Regions from separate parts of the Homo sapiens genome. Here region 2 is linked to region 1. The links come from fine-mapping of genetic effects on gene expression. A gene starts in region 1. The other region holds a variant in brackets. All regions are shown on one strand. Distances are from middle to middle.

What was found.
Region 2: its variant is fine-mapped to the expression of ATF6 in whole blood (TOPMed, PIP above 0.99).

Annotation. Positions count from the first base shown.
Region 1 is chr1:161,761,465-161,769,802 of GRCh38, forward strand. ATF6 (activating transcription factor 6) reads left to right here and starts at 4,856. Exons shown (of 16, transcript NM_007348.4): 1 at 4,856-4,978. The coding sequence starts at 4,897. ATF6-DT (ATF6 divergent transcript) reads right to left here and starts at 4,683. Exons shown (of 3, transcript NR_187280.1): 1 at 4,366-4,683; 2 at 3,960-4,037; 3 at 2,319-2,693. It overlaps LOC124904444 (a long non-coding RNA gene), which reads left to right and starts at 4,985. Exons shown (of 2, transcript XR_007066695.1): 1 at 4,985-5,342; 2 at 7,564-8,338. RefSeq lists enhancers at 2,965-3,134, 4,674-4,753, 4,784-4,863.
Region 2 is chr1:161,938,003-161,946,340 of GRCh38, forward strand. All of the region lies in intron 15 of ATF6 (activating transcription factor 6), which reads left to right. Among named protein-coding and RNA genes, the nearest start is that of OLFML2B, 82 kb to the right of the region's middle. The variant G/A (reference allele first, on the strand shown) is at 4,931.

The sequences.
Region 1 (8,338 bases):
ATGGTGGCAGGCACCTGTAATTCCAGCTACTTGGGAGGCTGAGGCAGGAGAATCGCTTGATTGTGGGAGGCAGAAGTTGCAGTGAGCCGAGCTCACGCCATTGCACTCCAGCCTGGGTGACAGAGAGAGACTCCGTCTCAAAAAAAAAAAAAAATTCTGGGAAAAACACAGAACAAAATGAAAAAAGTTGTGGAGAGGAGAGGTAGGATAGATAAAACAAGAATGGCAAATTGTTTAAGCTGAAGCTGGATGATAGGAACACAGGGATTTATTATATCATCTCTTGTATTTGTTTGAAAATTTTCATACTAAGTTTATTTTACAAATTAAAACATTAAATAAAATAGAATTTAAAAGGTTGGTGTTTGCATAATGTTCTGCTAAATAAAAAATCCTAAAGAACTTTAGACAAATTTTTTTAAAGTCATTTTTATTTTATCACATACTAGTTTCCATCTACCATAATATGATTTTTTTTTTTAGAGACAGAATCTTGCTATATTGCCCAGGCTAGCCTTGAACACCTGGGTTCAAGCAATCCTCCTGCCTCAGCCTCTCAAGAAGCTGGGATTACAGGTGTGTACCACTGTTCCTGGCACAGACAAAATACTAGAATAACAGAATTCAACAAGGTTTTTGGTACAAGATTGCTGTACAAAAATCCACAGTGTTGCTATACCCCAATAATAGCCAAATAGAAAAAAAAAGATGTGAAAAACAAAACTATAAAACTATGAAAATGAAAATGAAAATCTTAGTGACCTCAGGAGAGGGAAGGATTTCTTAAGAAAGCTACAAGTCAGCTATCATAACAACAGATTGATAAATTTGACTACATTGAAATTAAAATCTAGAGAACAAATCACCGTAAACAAAGACGACAAGTGTCAACCTGGGAGAAGGTATTTATAACATATACCAAGCGTTAACTTAAAAAAGCCCAACAATGGGCTGGGTGCGGTGGCTCATGCCTGTAATCCCAGCACTTTGGGAGGCTGAGGCAGAAGGATAGCTTGAGCCTAGGAGTTTGAGACCAGCCCGGGCAACAAAGCGAGACTCTGTCTCTCTCTCTCTTTTAAAAATGTATATATTAAAAAGCCCCACAATGAATAAATTTAGAAAAGAAGGGGAGACTTTATGGCCTGCAAGGTGGCCATCCTGCAGGCTGGGAAGCGTGCCTCCAGAAACAGGCGCTTTGAAGGAGGAGGGCTTGGAGTGTAGTTCAGGCTGAACAGGTTGGCTAAACCTACATTTTCACCAGGTTACAGGAAGAGCTATGAATATTCATGAAAGTGGTCCTGACACATGCGTATTGAACAAAAACTCATGTAACATATGACCCATATTCACTTTGGGATGGAGACTTAACTTTTTTGTTGTTGTTGTTCAGACGGAGTCTTGCTCTGTCACCCAGGCTGGACTGCAACGATGTGATCTCAGCTCACTGTAACCTCCACTTCCCGGTTTCAAGCGATACTCCTGCCTCAGCCTCCTGAGTAGCTGGGATTACAGGAACCTGCCCCCACGCCTGGCTAATTTTCGTATTTTTAGTAGAGATGGGGTTTCCCCATGTTGGCCAGGCTGGTCTCAAGCTCCTGACCTCGTGATCTTCCCACCTGGGCCTCCCAAAGTGCTGGGATTACAGGCGTGAGCCACCACACCCAGCCAAGACTTAACATTTAAATGTATTACGAGCCCTATACGTCAAAAGGTCTTTCAGGACATGAAGCCATGCAAATGTGCGACCTCTGTAGACCAGCCAGAACCAGTCCATGGCCAGTGGTCTTCTTACCTGGAGAAAGTTACTGAAATCAACAAAAAGTTGTCCAATGAAAGCTGTAGCTATGGCTGGTGGAACGGGGACTGGGGGTCAGTAAGTCAGCATCTCGTGGAGCTGCACATTATTTTAATATTGTTTATCTTTAGGCCAGTACTTGTTTAGCTGCTAGAGAAGAATCTTGTGGCAGTTAGAACACAGTTTATTCTTTAAGTATAGGGGTGTGGGACTAAAACCTTGCCTGGAATGGCTTTAGGTCTTTTTTATAATTTGGCATCTTATTGCCAGAGTCTGTTCTGTCAGTCTTATCATCTCTGTTTTAACATTAATGCTGGCCAGTTGTTGTGTTAAACTACAAAAGGGAGGGAGTATAACAAGGTGTGTCTAACCTGTCCCATCGTGGTCTAGAACTCAGTTTTAAGGTTTTCTAGGATCCCCTTGGCCACAAGGGGGCCTATTCTGTTGGTGGCGGACTTAGGAGTTTAGTTTTACTTTATACAGGTGAATGAATAGAGCAGGCTATCTAATGACGTACACATCATTTGTGAAAGAAAACTCCATAGCAAACTTTATAAAAGGTAAGAGTGGACAGTTCACAGAAGAGGAAATAAGGTTTCATAAGTATGGAAGAATGCACCACTTTGTTAGGGAAATGTAAATTGCAATTTTCACAGCGGTAAAAATGGTAAGAGTCTGACCATATCTTGTGTTGGAGAGAATGTGGAACAAAGAGAACTCATCAATGCTAGTGAGGGTGTAAACTGATAAAATAGTACATACATTATTTAAGACATTCTTGAGGCTGGGTGCGGTGGCTCACGCCTGTAATCTCAACAGTTTGGGAGGCAGAGGCGGGCGGACTGCTTGAATTCAGAAGTTTTGAGACCAGCCTGGGCAACATGGTGAAATCCTGTCTCTACAAAAAATACAAAAATTAGTCGGGTGTGGTGGTGGGTTCCCGTAGTCTCAGCTATTGTGGGGAGAGGCATGAGGATCGCTTAAACCTGGGAGGTCAAGCTGCAGTGAGCTGAGATGGCTCCACTGCAATCCAGCCTAGGGGACAAAGTGAGCCCCTGTCTCAAAAAAAAAAAAAAAAAAAAAAAGAGGGAGAGAGAGAGAGAAATTGAGATTCATTCAAGGAAATACCATGGGTAGATCCTTAATATCCAATAAGAAAAATGATTTGGAGAACATTAAAGTTTACATACATTAAAAAAACCCAAATGACACTAAATGCATGTGTCTATAAACATGTTTAAGCACCGTAAAACTAAAAATAAAAGTGGACTAGAATTACACTTTTATTTTTATAAAATAAAATTTTATACCCATAAAATTCATGGTAGAAGTGGCCTACGCCAAGGGAGGAAAATGAAGCAGGGAGGAAAGAGGAATTCAATTCTGTAGTATTTAATTTCTTATGAAAAATCTGGGACAAAAATGAAAAATGTTAAATTTTTAAATTCTTGGTGATAGGTCACAAATGTTTGTTTCATAATTACTTGCACTTTTTGAATAAAAATAAAATCTTTTGGAAATTAAAAAAATTGGCGATTTGTCATGGTGATTTTCTTAAAAGACTAAGGTGTCTAGTGGGATACAGAAGACTCGATGATTTTATTTTATTTTAGGTTTTTTTTTTTTTTTTTTTTTTGAGACGCAGTCTCGCAATGTCGACCAGGCTGGTGTGCAGTGGTGCGATCTCCGCTCGCTGCAACCTCTGCCTCCCGCGTTCATGCGATTCTCCTGCCTCAGCCTCCCGAGTAGCTGGGATTACAGCTACTTGCCCGCCACCACGCCTGGCTAACTTTTTGTATTTTTAGTGGAGACAGGGTTTCACTATGTTGGCCAGGCTGGTCTCGAACTCCTGACCTCGTGATCCGCCCGCCTCGGCCTCCCAAAGTGCTGGGATTACAGGCGTGAGCCACCGCGCCCGGCCTTATTTTAGTTTTTTATGTCAATTTTTGAATTTGTAATTGGGTGAGAATTAAAGTGTTATAAATTTCACCTTAAGTGAAAATTTATTAGTTTTCTAATGACAAAAGTAGTTACATCTGACGTAAGGGGATTTAATTATCTTTTTCTGGGCTTGCGTCCCGGAACGCTGCTGCATTATGTAATCTGTAGTAATATACCCACGAGCAGTTTGGAGGGTTCTGGGAAGCACATTTGTTTTGCTTACCTACCATGGGAAAGATTCCACGTGGTCCTAGAAGCATACGTATTCGTCGGTTACAGTATTTTAAATATTCACTGGCCGCTGAAATTTAAAATGGATGAAAAAGAAATTCTCTTAAGTAGCGTTCTTGAAACTGCTTTATCAAACTCAGTTCATATTTTCAGTTGGAGTTCGTGATGTATGTGATTTTCCTTTAAATAAAACCCGAATCTTTAGTAATACAAATATTGGGAACTTCGATTACTGTAGGTCTTAGGGTAGACTCGCTTGGACTTTGACTAAATACTATGCTTTAGAAATTTATCTTTAGGAGATAAATTTGGGGGGTTTATCTTTTTATATTTGCTTTGTTTCAATTTATTTAAATAAAAGTAGTCTTTCTAGAAGTATGTTTTATAGTACCACTTACCTCGGTTACTGTCCCAGTTAAGCAGTTTTCACGAATGTGGAAAAATAGTAGTGTTTTTCTTTCATACACGCGTATATGAAAAATTTTTACATTGATAGAGAATTATTCGTAAAAATTAAAGTAAATTTACTGTTAGTCTCTAATTTTGTTCTGAGATAGCCACGCTGTGGCATTAAGAAGGATAATCAAGGAATAAGCCATAATGTTCAGAAAGGGGCTTTACTTTTTATTTTTAATATTATTGATAAACTTTGTTTAGTCGAATTGATGTCTGCGTGTCTTCCCCCGCCTTCCCCATAAAACAGCGGGACAGAAAGTCCTGAAAACTCCAAAAGGGAAATATTTACTCAGAGGTCTATTCAAATTTGCTTAGTCTCTGACGTTTTCCTGTGTCGTACAAATCCCTCGTGCGGCAAAAGTAGTTTGTCTTTACTAGGCCACCGTCTCGTCAGCGTTACGGAGTATTTTGTCCGCCTGCCGCCGCCGTCCCAGATATTAATCACGGAGTTCCAGGGAGAAGGAACTTGTGAAATGGGGGAGCCGGCTGGGGTTGCCGGCACCATGGAGTCACCTTTTAGCCCGGGACTCTTTCACAGGCTGGATGAAGATTGGGGTGAGTGGGATCTGAGAATGTACCAGGGTGGCTCGGGTTCGCGTCTAAAGGTTTCTTCCTCCCTACTTCCGCCCACTCGTGGTGACAGGTGTGGACCAACCCTGCCTGGGGAGTGAGGCCCCTCGTCACTCCTGTTCGTGCCCCTGGAAGAGTCTGGGAGTATCGTTCGGCTTCTGTCCTGGCCACAGGGAGAGTAGAATATTGTCTAACTGGAGTTAACTGTCGTTTTTCACTATTCCCACTGGGGAAGTACCGGGTGATCTTTTTGTGTGGCTAACACTGGACGTCTTTAGGAGGTTTAGAGCAAAATGGCTGGGACCGCCAAAAAGGCTACAAGCTATTTCCTGAGTGTGAAATGTGGGCGGTGAGCACAATGGAGTGGGTTTTTGTGTGTTTGGTGTATATGAGAGAATGTGGTTATATACAAGAAATTCTAATCTTACAGCTTTTACTATTGGTTTAAGCCTGATGTCCGTCTTGGCAGAAAAGCAAAACACCCAAGCACCTGACCTCGGGTCCCTGCTTAGCTACACCTAATACTTATGGTGTAATCCTGACTGCTCTCCAGATACAGCTCTTAATTTTCTTGTTAATGGATATTTTGTTTGGTTTTGGTGGTCAGGAAGGGTGGAATGGGATGAAGTGGAAATGAGAATGAAGAAACTTTGTTATCTAAGTATTTAGAGGAGACTTTTATTCTCCTCTTGATTGCAAGATATAATAGTAATATTGTTCTTAGGTTCCAATATGAATTTGGGATTGTGTAGGTTCCCAAATGGGCCCGCTAGTGAGCCTACACCACTCATCAGCCTTGGAACTGGGGGGAACCCAGTTTATCTTTCTCCCTTGGATCAGCATTCTCAATAGCAGGAGTGGAAGGAATCTCAACTTTTTATTGAACAAAGTCATTTAATTGTTTCAAGGACAGATGTTCTCTAAAACTATATTCTATTGGAGATTTATTTTAATCCTTGGGTAGATTTTTTAAGAGTTGCTGGAAAACTTAAGATTTTTTATTCCCATTTTCCCAAGCCAAATGCATTAGTGACAGTAACCATTTATTTAGCTCTTTGTGTCAGGGACCCTGTTAAACTCTTGACATGAAGTATTTTGTTTAATCCTACCAACAGTCCAATGAGGTACTGTTTATTTTAGAGATGAGGAAACTGAGGCTAACAGAATTTGTGCTCAGATTCTTAGAGCTAGTTAGTGGCAGAAGAAGGATCAGACCAGGTTTTTCTACCTCCAAAGTCTGTACCCCTAGCATCTATTCTATAATGCTTTCCTAACTCATGTCTACAGATTTTATTCTTCCTAAGATCCCTGGTTATTAATAAGACTACTTGAATATATTGGGTAGTTATGATTTATTTTGTCAGCTAGTCAGCTATTATATTTTCATGACATTTCTTTTCTTTACCTCTTTTTTTGAGATGGAGTTTCGCTTTTGTTGCCCAGGCTAGAGTGTAATGGCGCAATCTTGGCTCACCGCAACCTCCGCCACTCGGGTTTGAGCGATTCTCCTGCCTCAGCCTCCCGAGTAGCTGGGATTACAGGCATGCACCACCACGCCCGGCTAATTTTGTATTTTTAGTAGAGACGAGGTTTCTCCATGTTGGTTAGGCTGGTCTGGAGCTCTGGACCTCAGGTGATCCGCCCACCTCGGCCTCCCAAAGTGCTGGGATTACGGGTGTGAGCCACTGTGCCCGGCCAGTGACATTTCTTAAAGTATAACTGTGGGACACTTCCTGGTAGCATAATTTTATGTCGTCTTCTGATACCCAGGCTGCATTTTCCAGACTTATCTGATCACTTGACTTAATGTTCTCTAACAGAGCATTCAGTTCTTTGTAGTCAGTTCACCGACTCACTTCTATCGGGTATCCTGCCCTGTCCCTCCCTGAATGTGCCCATTTCCATTGTTTTCCAGGTTTCCCTTTTCAAACTGTTAACAGTCTTCTCTTCTTTGAAGACTTTAATTTAATTCCTTAGGTGTTCAGTAAGTAGGATAGATTTTGTTGGCAATAGAGTGAAACACTACTGTCTGATAGTGTTTCGTTCTGTGACAGTTGCTGTTTTGGATGTTCAAGTACTTCACTGATTTACTTGATTTTGTTGTTGTTGTTGTTGTTTCTTTTAGAGACAGGGTCTTGCTCTGTCGCCCAGGCTGGAGTGCGGTGATGCAATCATAGTTCACTGTGACCTGGAACTCCTGGGCTCAAGTGATCCTTCCATCTGAGCCTCCTGAGTCGCTAGGACTACAGGTGCACACCGCTACCATGCCTGGTTAATTTTTAATTTTTGAATTTTTTGTAGAGACAGGGGTCTTGCTGTGTTGCCCAGACTGGTCTCCAACTGGCCTCAGTCATCCTGCCTCAACCTCCCAGGTGATGGGATTACAGGCTCAAGCCACTGTGTCTAGCCTTGATTTTTTTTTAATATTAGACACTATCTAGTTAAAATTTAAAAATCAGATTATGTAATTAGTATGTCCTGTGATTTTAACAACTCTAAATAATTTAAATAAAGTGATTAACTCAGAACAGCCTGTGAGGGATGTGCTTTCCTTTTTCTTTTTAACTTAGGTAATGAAATTTAGAGCAAGAGTCTTCAAACATTTTCTGTAAAGGTTCAGATAGTAAATATTTTAGGCTTTGTGATTACATGGTCACTGTTGCAACTACTCAAGTCTGCTGTGATAGTGCAGGAGCAGCCAGAGACAGCATAAACAAGTGAGCATGGCTGTGTTTCTATAAAGCTTTATAGACACTGAAATTTGAATTTCACATAATTATTTTAAATAATAAGCCTACTTTTTTAGTATAATTATAGATTTACACAATAATTGAGCAGATAGTACAAAGAGTCCACATACTTCCCCTTCATCCCCAGCTTCTCCTATTGGTAACATCTTGCATTAGTGTGGTACATTGGTTACAATTGATGAGCCAGTATTGATACATTATTATTAACTAAGCCCATCATTTAAAGTTCACTCTGTTGTACATTCTATGGCAGGGATCCCCAGCCTTTTGGCACCAGGGACTGGTTTCATGAAAGACAATTTTTCCACAGGAGGTGGGGACAGGGAGGCACAGGAAATGTTTTCAGGATGATTCAAGTGCATTACATTTATTGTGCACTTTATTTGTATTGTTATTACACTGTAATATATAATGAAATAATTATATAACTCAACATAATACAGAATTAGTGGGAGCCCTGAGCTTGTTTTCCTGCAACTAGATGGTCTCATCTGGGGGTGATGGGAGACAGTGATTAGATCATCAGGCGTTAGATTCTCATAAGGAGCGTGCACTCTAGATCCCTCACATGTGCAGTTCACAGTAGGGTTCACAC
Region 2 (8,338 bases), 180 kb after region 1:
CTCCCCTTCCCACACATGTACACAAACACATTTGCTTTTCTGACCTCATTTTCTAGCCTTCTACCCTTGCTTCCTCCTCTGCATGCACAGAGTCCTCTTTGCTGTCCCCTGAACATGCCAGGCATACTCCCACCTTAGGGCCTTTGCATCTACTGTTCGCCTGTCTGGAGTGCACTTTCTTCATCCCATGCACTATGAATCTTCCTTCTGCTCTCATTTTTGTTTAAGGTATTATATGAGACTGTGCTACTAATAGAAATTATAGGGCTCTTTTGGCTAGTGTCAAGTATAGATTTGCGTTTTGGACTCACATAACTGAATATGTTAGAATTACATCTAAAGAAATAATTGCCTATAAATGGAGTATTGTGTGTGAAGAGTTAGAGTCCTGCCCCATCTCCTTTCCTATTAAATGATAGTGATTTTCACAGTATCTGAGATAGCCCTTTGAATATCAGAGAAACATAAGAGTGTAAAGATTTCAAGGAAATGGTCATATTTTTCAGATGAGAAAAGTTCACCAAAGATTTTACCCATTGGTGCCAGAAATGTAAGGCAGGCAAGAAGTTAGTAGAAGAAAGTCATCACACTGTAACAATTATTTTTTTTAAGTTGTAGGCACTGATTTCCAAATGAGTTCCATAAACCACTGCTATTTCCATTTGTAGTATAGCAATAGGTTGTGATACTAACCTTAAAGGTCTCAAGTTCAACAGCTTATTATGAGGAAAGCTGCCATTCCTTTAAGAAGGTGAGTTTCTATTATCTTTTTAAAGAGAGAATTACTCCTTTATAAAAATGTAACTTCTTCATACTGTATTTCAGATCTCTTGCTTTTTAGTAAAACTTTTCATTGCAGTGGGTTTGATAATAATAGTGCTCACTTTTAAAAAATTCCCTAAATTTTAGTTTCCCCTCCAGTCACCAGCTCACTTTTCTGTGATCCTCTTTAGCAGAACTCCTTAAAAGACTCATCTATACTTGCTGTTTCCTCCTTCTCTCCTGCTGTTCTCTCTATAACCCACTCCAAATAGGCTTTCATCTCGTCGCTCCACTGAAACTACTTATCAAAGTTTCCATCACCGTCATGCTACCATATTATCTTCTCCATCCTCATCTTATTCCCAGCAACATTTGACATCACCTTGGAACACTTTATTTACGTGATTTCACTGAGACCTCCTGTCTGGTTTTGTTTTTCATCTTATTTCATTAGATGCTAGTTCTCAGTCTCATTTGACTCTTTCTCTTCTCCCAAACCCTATACATTGAAATATCCCAAGGCCTAGACCCTCTAGTCTTTGGCCTAGGTGATCTTTTTTTATATATGTATTTTAAGTTCTAGGGTACATGTGCACAACGTGCAGGTTTGTTACATATGTATACATGTGCCATGTTGGTTTGCTGCACCCATTAACTCGTCATTTATATTAGGTGATCTTATTCAATCACATGGTATATAAATTACAATATAGGCTACTATGACAGAGGCCCCAGAATGAAGGTGCCTAAACAAGATGAAAGTTGATTTCTTTTTCCTATAAAAGTGTGGGAGCTTGTCCAAGACTGATAGGATAGCTTGTTAGTACTGGAGACCCACGCTCTTTCTTTCCTGCACTCTGCTGTTCTCAACATGCTGTCTCCATCTTCTGGTCCCAGATGGCTGCTTCAGCCCCTGCATCCTGTCAGTATTCTAACCAGCAGGAAGAAGAAGATAGGAAGTGAGAACGTATCCCTTCCCTTTAGGACTCAGAAGTTAAACATGTTTCATCTGCTCTCATTTCATTGGCCAGAACTGAGTCACATGATGATAACTTGCTGAAGAGAATTTAGGAAATATAGTCTTTAGGTAGGTAGCTATGGCTTCCAGCTAAAATGGAGCAGTTCTTTTACTAGAGGAAAAAGAGCGTGATGGATTTTGGAGGACAGGGAGCAGTTTCTGCTGCACATGGCTTTAAATACTATCTATGAGCTAATGTCTCCCAGATTTGTAGCTATTTCCTGAGTTCAGGACTCTTTCCTCAGCTGCCTCCCTAACATTCTCGAACACCTGCCTGTTCAAAATTGAACTCTTCACTTTTCTCCCCAAACTCCTACCCATCTTAGGTCTCCCAGGTGCTCATGCCAGAAACTTAGAACAGTCTTGATTCCTTGCCTTCTCTTTCATCCACTTTTGATCCATCTGCCAATCCTATTAACTTTACCTTCAAAATGGACTCCAAATCCAACCACTTCTCATCAGATCTATCTTCCACATTACCACCAATGACTTATTTTAATAAAATACATATCCCCATCCTGTTTCTTACTTCCTTAAAACCTTCCTCTGTCTCCTTATTGCCTTTGGGATAAATTCTAAACCCTGTGTGAACCAACTCTTTCTATCTCTCTGGCCTCATTTTCCCATTTTCCACTTATATTTTGTATTTCAGTACTACCTAGCACAACACACCTCATGACTTGATGTATTTACTAATGCTTATCCCTCTGTAGAATTTCCCCCACCTCAGACCTGGCTGAAGAATCCCTTAGTCTCAAGTGTCACCTCCTTCAGATCTTTTTTTTTTTTTTTTTGAGACAGAGTCTTGCTCTGTTGCCCAGGCTGAAGTGCAGTGGCACAATCTTGGCTCACTGCAACCTCCGCCTCCCGGGTTCAAGCGATTCTTCTGCCTCAGCCTCCTGAGTAGCTGGGACTACAGGCATGTGCCACCACACCCAGCTAATTTTTTTTGTTTTTTTTTAGTAGAGACAGGGTTTCACCATGTTGGCCAGGATGGCCTCGATCTCTTGACCTTGTGATCCGCCCACCTCGGCCTCCCAAAGTGCTGGGATTACAGGCGTGAGCCACCGTGCCTGGCCAGAAAATGTTCTTTGTCATCTCTCCACCTCCCCAGGCTAGGTAGGCACCTTCCTCTTTATTCTTGTTGTACCATATGCATACCCGTATCACACCTATCCTGGATGATACCAGTTTACATAGCTGCCTCTTTTCCTAGATGCAAGTGCCTTGGTCAGGGGCAAGGGCTTACTCATCTCTCAGTGCCCAACACATAATAGCTGCTAAGTAAATATTTATGTAATTGAATCATATTGATCATGGGAACAAACTCCCATTGGGAGAGCATCACCTCTGCCTTACATATCTGAGAAAAGCCCTTGTTTATTGTACCCTATCAACTGAATCTGCTGGGCTATATATTAAAGTGGGTATTTTAGGCCCTGCTTAAAAAATAAAGGTTAAATTGAGCATATTCATTGCTCTGTTAGGATTACATAATGCCTGATAGTGCAAAAACATGGTTGTTGACTGAACTTTACAGTTGTCTGGGGTTTGTGAGGCCCAGCTATAGTCTAGGTAGCTTTGTGTGTTTGAAGGTATTCTGACTAGATGAGTCAGTAGTTTAAAAGTAACAAGTCACTGTTGGTCTGTGGGAGAAGTTGTGTGGACTTAGACTTGCCTTCACTGCTTTAAAATCTTGCTTTTTAAAAAATCCCAAGAAAGGTAGGTTCTCTTTAAAAAGTTTATGGCCTGTATTTGCTGTCATAAACCAACCCAGTTTTCAGCCTTTAGCCGGGCTCCGCTCCCTTAGAGATGAATGGTAACCCATATAAACTACATGGCGATTCTAGTTGTTTTTAGTCAGGAAAAGCCCCAAGGTTTTTATTAAGAAGCCCAGAAAGAAGAGATGTCAAGGATTCCGGTGAGAAGTACTATGTTATAAGAAGCAGATTAGGATAACTTGTCTTAAAAATGAAAAAGGGATGAGAAACTTGACAAGTTTTTAGTGCTTTCTTAGCACTAAATGATGACTTAAAGAAAGTTTAGTCCTTGCCAAATTTTCCCCTTTGGAACTGTTTCCACTGTGTGATAGAGATCTGCCGCTACGAGCTTGTCATCATTCTCATCCACTGTCTTCTTTGTCTTCTTCGAAGTCACGTCCTACTCCTCTTCCTCTTATCTTCTTTTTTTCGGCGGGGTGGGGGGGTTTTGTTTGTTTGTTTTTTGCACTAAGTCATAGAACTGAAAAGACTCTGGGTAATGTTTTCAAAATAAAGCCACATTGTTTCCAATACAACAGCTTTCTCTGGGTTCTTTCACTGCCTCCTTAATGTAAGTCTTAATCACACTTGTATTAACAGTAGAAACACTCTGCAGTATCTCGTTTCATACAGTGGTGTTAGAAGCATTAACTCCTCAGCCCTCATACCATCACAGGAAAACAGCAATCATTGTTAACCCCCATCCATTGGGGAGATGAAGAAAATGAGCAAACTATGAAGAATGCAGTTTATTTCGTCTCCATAAGACTGTGAGGCAGTGGAAGGTAAGGGCTAGACCCCAGGATGGCTGATTCCTAGGGCTCTTTTCCTGTGCTCCAGAATGCAGTGACACCTTTCAGTTGTTGCTGTATTCAGAGGTGTGTGTTGCATGTGATAGGTACAGTACTTGACATTATTAACTCTTGCAACCACCCTATGGGTTAGGTATTAATATCCCCATGTTATAGATGAAGTCTGTGATTCCAAAGCCTGATGTCTCTCCACTGTGCCACACACACTGACTCCACACAATAACAATTACTCCCATTTCATATCACTTGACATCCTGAAAGTCCTCCACAAACATCATCATATTTAATCCTTAAGAACTTTGGAAATATCAGTGATTATCACACACTTTGAAATAAGCAAGTCACTAATCAATGTGATCTTATTAAAATTTAAGTCAGTTCATGATGCTACTACTCCGACCTTCCAATCATGTCACATCTGTCTAGAATCAAGGCCCAAATCTGTGTGACCTGTGATATGGTTTGGCTATGTCCTCACCCACAGCCTCATCTTTTTTTGTTTGTTTGTTTGTTTGTTTTGAGACAGAGCCTCACTCTGTCACCCAGGCTGGAGTGCAGTGGCGCAATCTTGGTTCACT[G/A]CAACCTCCGCCTCCAGGGTTCAAGTGATTATCCTGCCTCAGCCTCCCAAGTAGCTGGGATTACAGGCATGCGCCGTGACACCCGGCTAATTTTTGTATTTTTAGTAGAGACGTGGTTTCACCATGTTGGCCATGCTGGTCATGATTTCCTGACCTCGTGATCCGCCCACCTCGGCCTCCCAAAATGTGGGAATTACAGGCATGAGCTACCACACCCAGCCCCAAAACCTCATCTTGAATTATAATTCCCACATGTCAAGATTGAGACCAGGTGGAGGTAATTCGATCATGGGGGCTGTTTCCCCCATGCGGTTCTCATGATAGTGAGTCTCACGAGATCTGATGGTTTTATAAGCATCTGGCATTTCCCCTGCTTGTACTAACTCAGTCCTGCCCCCTTGTGAAAAGGGTGCCTGCTTCCACTTTGCCTTCTGCCATGATTGTAAGTTTCCTGAGGCCTCCCCAGCAATGTGGAACTGTGAGTCAATTAAACCTCTTTCCTTTATAAATTACCCAGTCTCAGGTATTTCTTCATAGCAGTGTGAGAACGGACTAATACAACCTGTAAGGAGAGTGGTCCGCTGGTTTCCTCTCCAGCCTCATCGCCTCCTACTCTTCCCTTGATTCTCTCTGCTTCAGTCACACTGGTCACCTTACTATTCCTCAGATACTCAGGGCACGCTCCTGCCTCAGGGCCTCTATACCTGCTCTTCCCTCTATATGTAATGCCCTCTCCCCAGACACCTGCTTGACTAGCTCCCCCAGTTCTGCCAGGTCTCGAACAAAAAATCACCTTTTCACACGCACACAAAAAGCCATCTTGCTGGTCAGGACTTGCCAGACCACTCTTTGCAAAATTCCAGTCTAGCCCCTAACATGTCATATCCACCTTCCATGCTTTAGTTTTATCCTTAGTCTTTATCATTTTCAAACATACTGTGTATTTACTTACTTCTCTCGCTTACCATCTGCTCACTAGAATGTGAATGCTGTGAGGGTAGGGCTTTCATCTGTTTTGTTGTTCACTTCTCCACTCCAGCACCTGTAACATACTGGGCACATAGCAGGCACTCAATAAATATTTGATGAATGAAAACAGATTAGAAAATAGAAAGTCAAAGAAGCTAAGTGAGTTTCCCCAAAATGATATGGTATAGCAGCATCAAAGCTAAAACCAAGACTGGTCTTCTGATCCACATGCAGTTTGGTGCTCAGTTAGGCCAGAATCCGAAAAAGTTGTAAGTTAAGTTCTGAAATAAAACTCAGCCAAATAAAGTAGTTTGGTGTAATTTGCACTTTTAAAATAATTTTTCATCAGTTACTATATCATAGAGGATGAAGAGCAGTCCTTCCCTTGGACTGTCTCCAAGCAGCAGGAATAATGAGAATAAGTTACAGAACTTAAAATAAACCCAGGTGTTTCTGGGCCTGAGATTCTTAATGTCCACAATGAAGGGACCATGTCAGTTCAGAGCTCTTCACAGCTCTAATCTTGAATCCATCTCATGGATGAATGAAATGCCTGGTTTTCTTTGTAATTTGTTCAGTTCTATGCATACAAGGTATGCAGTTTGTTCTGTAGATAAACTACACATGGGTATTTCTGTAACTCTCCTTTTATCATCATTACCGTCTGTTTGATTCTTTCCCCTACATTTGTGCAAAATGTAGGCTTGTCATCTCACTGTGTTGTATTGCAGGATCAGCAAGCATGTCAAGGATCTCATGTGTCTTCTAATCTCATGCAGCCTCTGCTGCAAGGAAGCTCTCACCACTGCCTCCTCAGAGTTATCCAATGGGCAAAGAAACCAGAAGGCAGGACGACTTAAGGCCAGGGAACTAAATATGCAATAATGGTGTCTGGGGGTCAGGAAAGCAAGTGTTTGTACAACATGGCCTGGCATTCTTTGTCACTCTGAATTAAATCTGCACATGGTAATCAGACCTAAAAGAAGTGCACCAATAAGTCAGGCCATTGGTTATCCAGCTCTATACAAGTTTTGGCAAAGAAGGTTAAATGCAGTGTTTGGCATTGTATCTCATCCTGGTTCATTTCTTCATTAAAAATTCCCTCTGTAGAGAGTAAAATACAGTTATTTTGAGGTGGTGTCCATATCCTTAGGAACAGGAGGCACCGTCCTAAGCTCCTTTACACATACCAGCTCTTAAATACACAACTTGAGTAAGGTTTATAATTCTCATTTCTATTATATGCTGCACATGGCTTATGATAAAGTGAACCTGCAAATGATAGCAAGATAGAACAAGTCTGCAAAAGTAAGAATGGCACGTTAATTACAGAAGTTGGATCCTATCAGTAATTTAAACCAAAGCATTTATTTGAAAACAAAATGAAACAAAACACCAATGCCCTCAGTCACCTTCTTATTCCATTCCCATTTGCTCCAGTAGGAATTAATCTCTTTATTTCTCCTTACCCTTGAGCACTTTTATATATCTGCACTTGGGTTAAAGGCAGTTCTATTAATTTCTTTGTTTGGACAGAAGTTTCCTTAATTTACCATAATCATCACTGTTGTCACTATGCCAGTCCAGTATGTTTGGACTTCACAGATAAGTCTTGCAGTTTCCAAAACACCATCCCATCCTTACTGCGTTTATTCTTGAATGACTTTTCACTGGGAGATAGTATACTTATCTTTTTCAACAAAACTACAAATGGGATCCTAATAACAAGTTTACTGTTTGTTAATTTGTGTTAGATATAGGCATACTGTCATATTTTCCTGTAATTTTTCATATCTGGTCTTGTGAACTGTTACTAGTATTTTTCTTCCATATGTATTTTACCTACCAACTTGATTGTAAACTGCTTAAAGATAGAAGCTATGTTATATAAGCATTTCACGCATGCTGGCTCAATGAATCACAAATAATTGGGAATTTGGTTAGACATCTCATCTGAACAGTCCCTGCCCTGATACCACCCTGGGACATTCAGCCCTTGGCCACCTGCTTTGATGAGCACATTTCTATGTCTCCTGCTTAAGTACTTACGTAAGATGCTACTGAGTACCTGACTTCAGACCTACAGAGTCTGTTTTTGTTTTGTTTTGTTTTCTTTTGTTTTGAGACAGGGTGTCAGTCTGTCACCCAGGCTGTAGTGCGGTGGCTAGATCTCAGCTTTCTGCAGCCTCAACCTCCCAAGCTCAGGTGTTAGCCTCCTGAGTAGCTGGGACTACAGACACAAACCATCATGCCCAGCTAATTTTTGTATTTTTCATAGAGACAGGAGTACTCCATGTTGCCCCAGCTGCTCTCGAACTCCTGGGCTCAAGCAGTCTGCCTGCTTTGGCCTCCCGAAGTGCTGGGATTGCAGGCGTCAGCCACTACACCTGGCCCCTGCAGAGTCTTTATCAAACAGAAGTGAATATTAGGAGGAGCCTG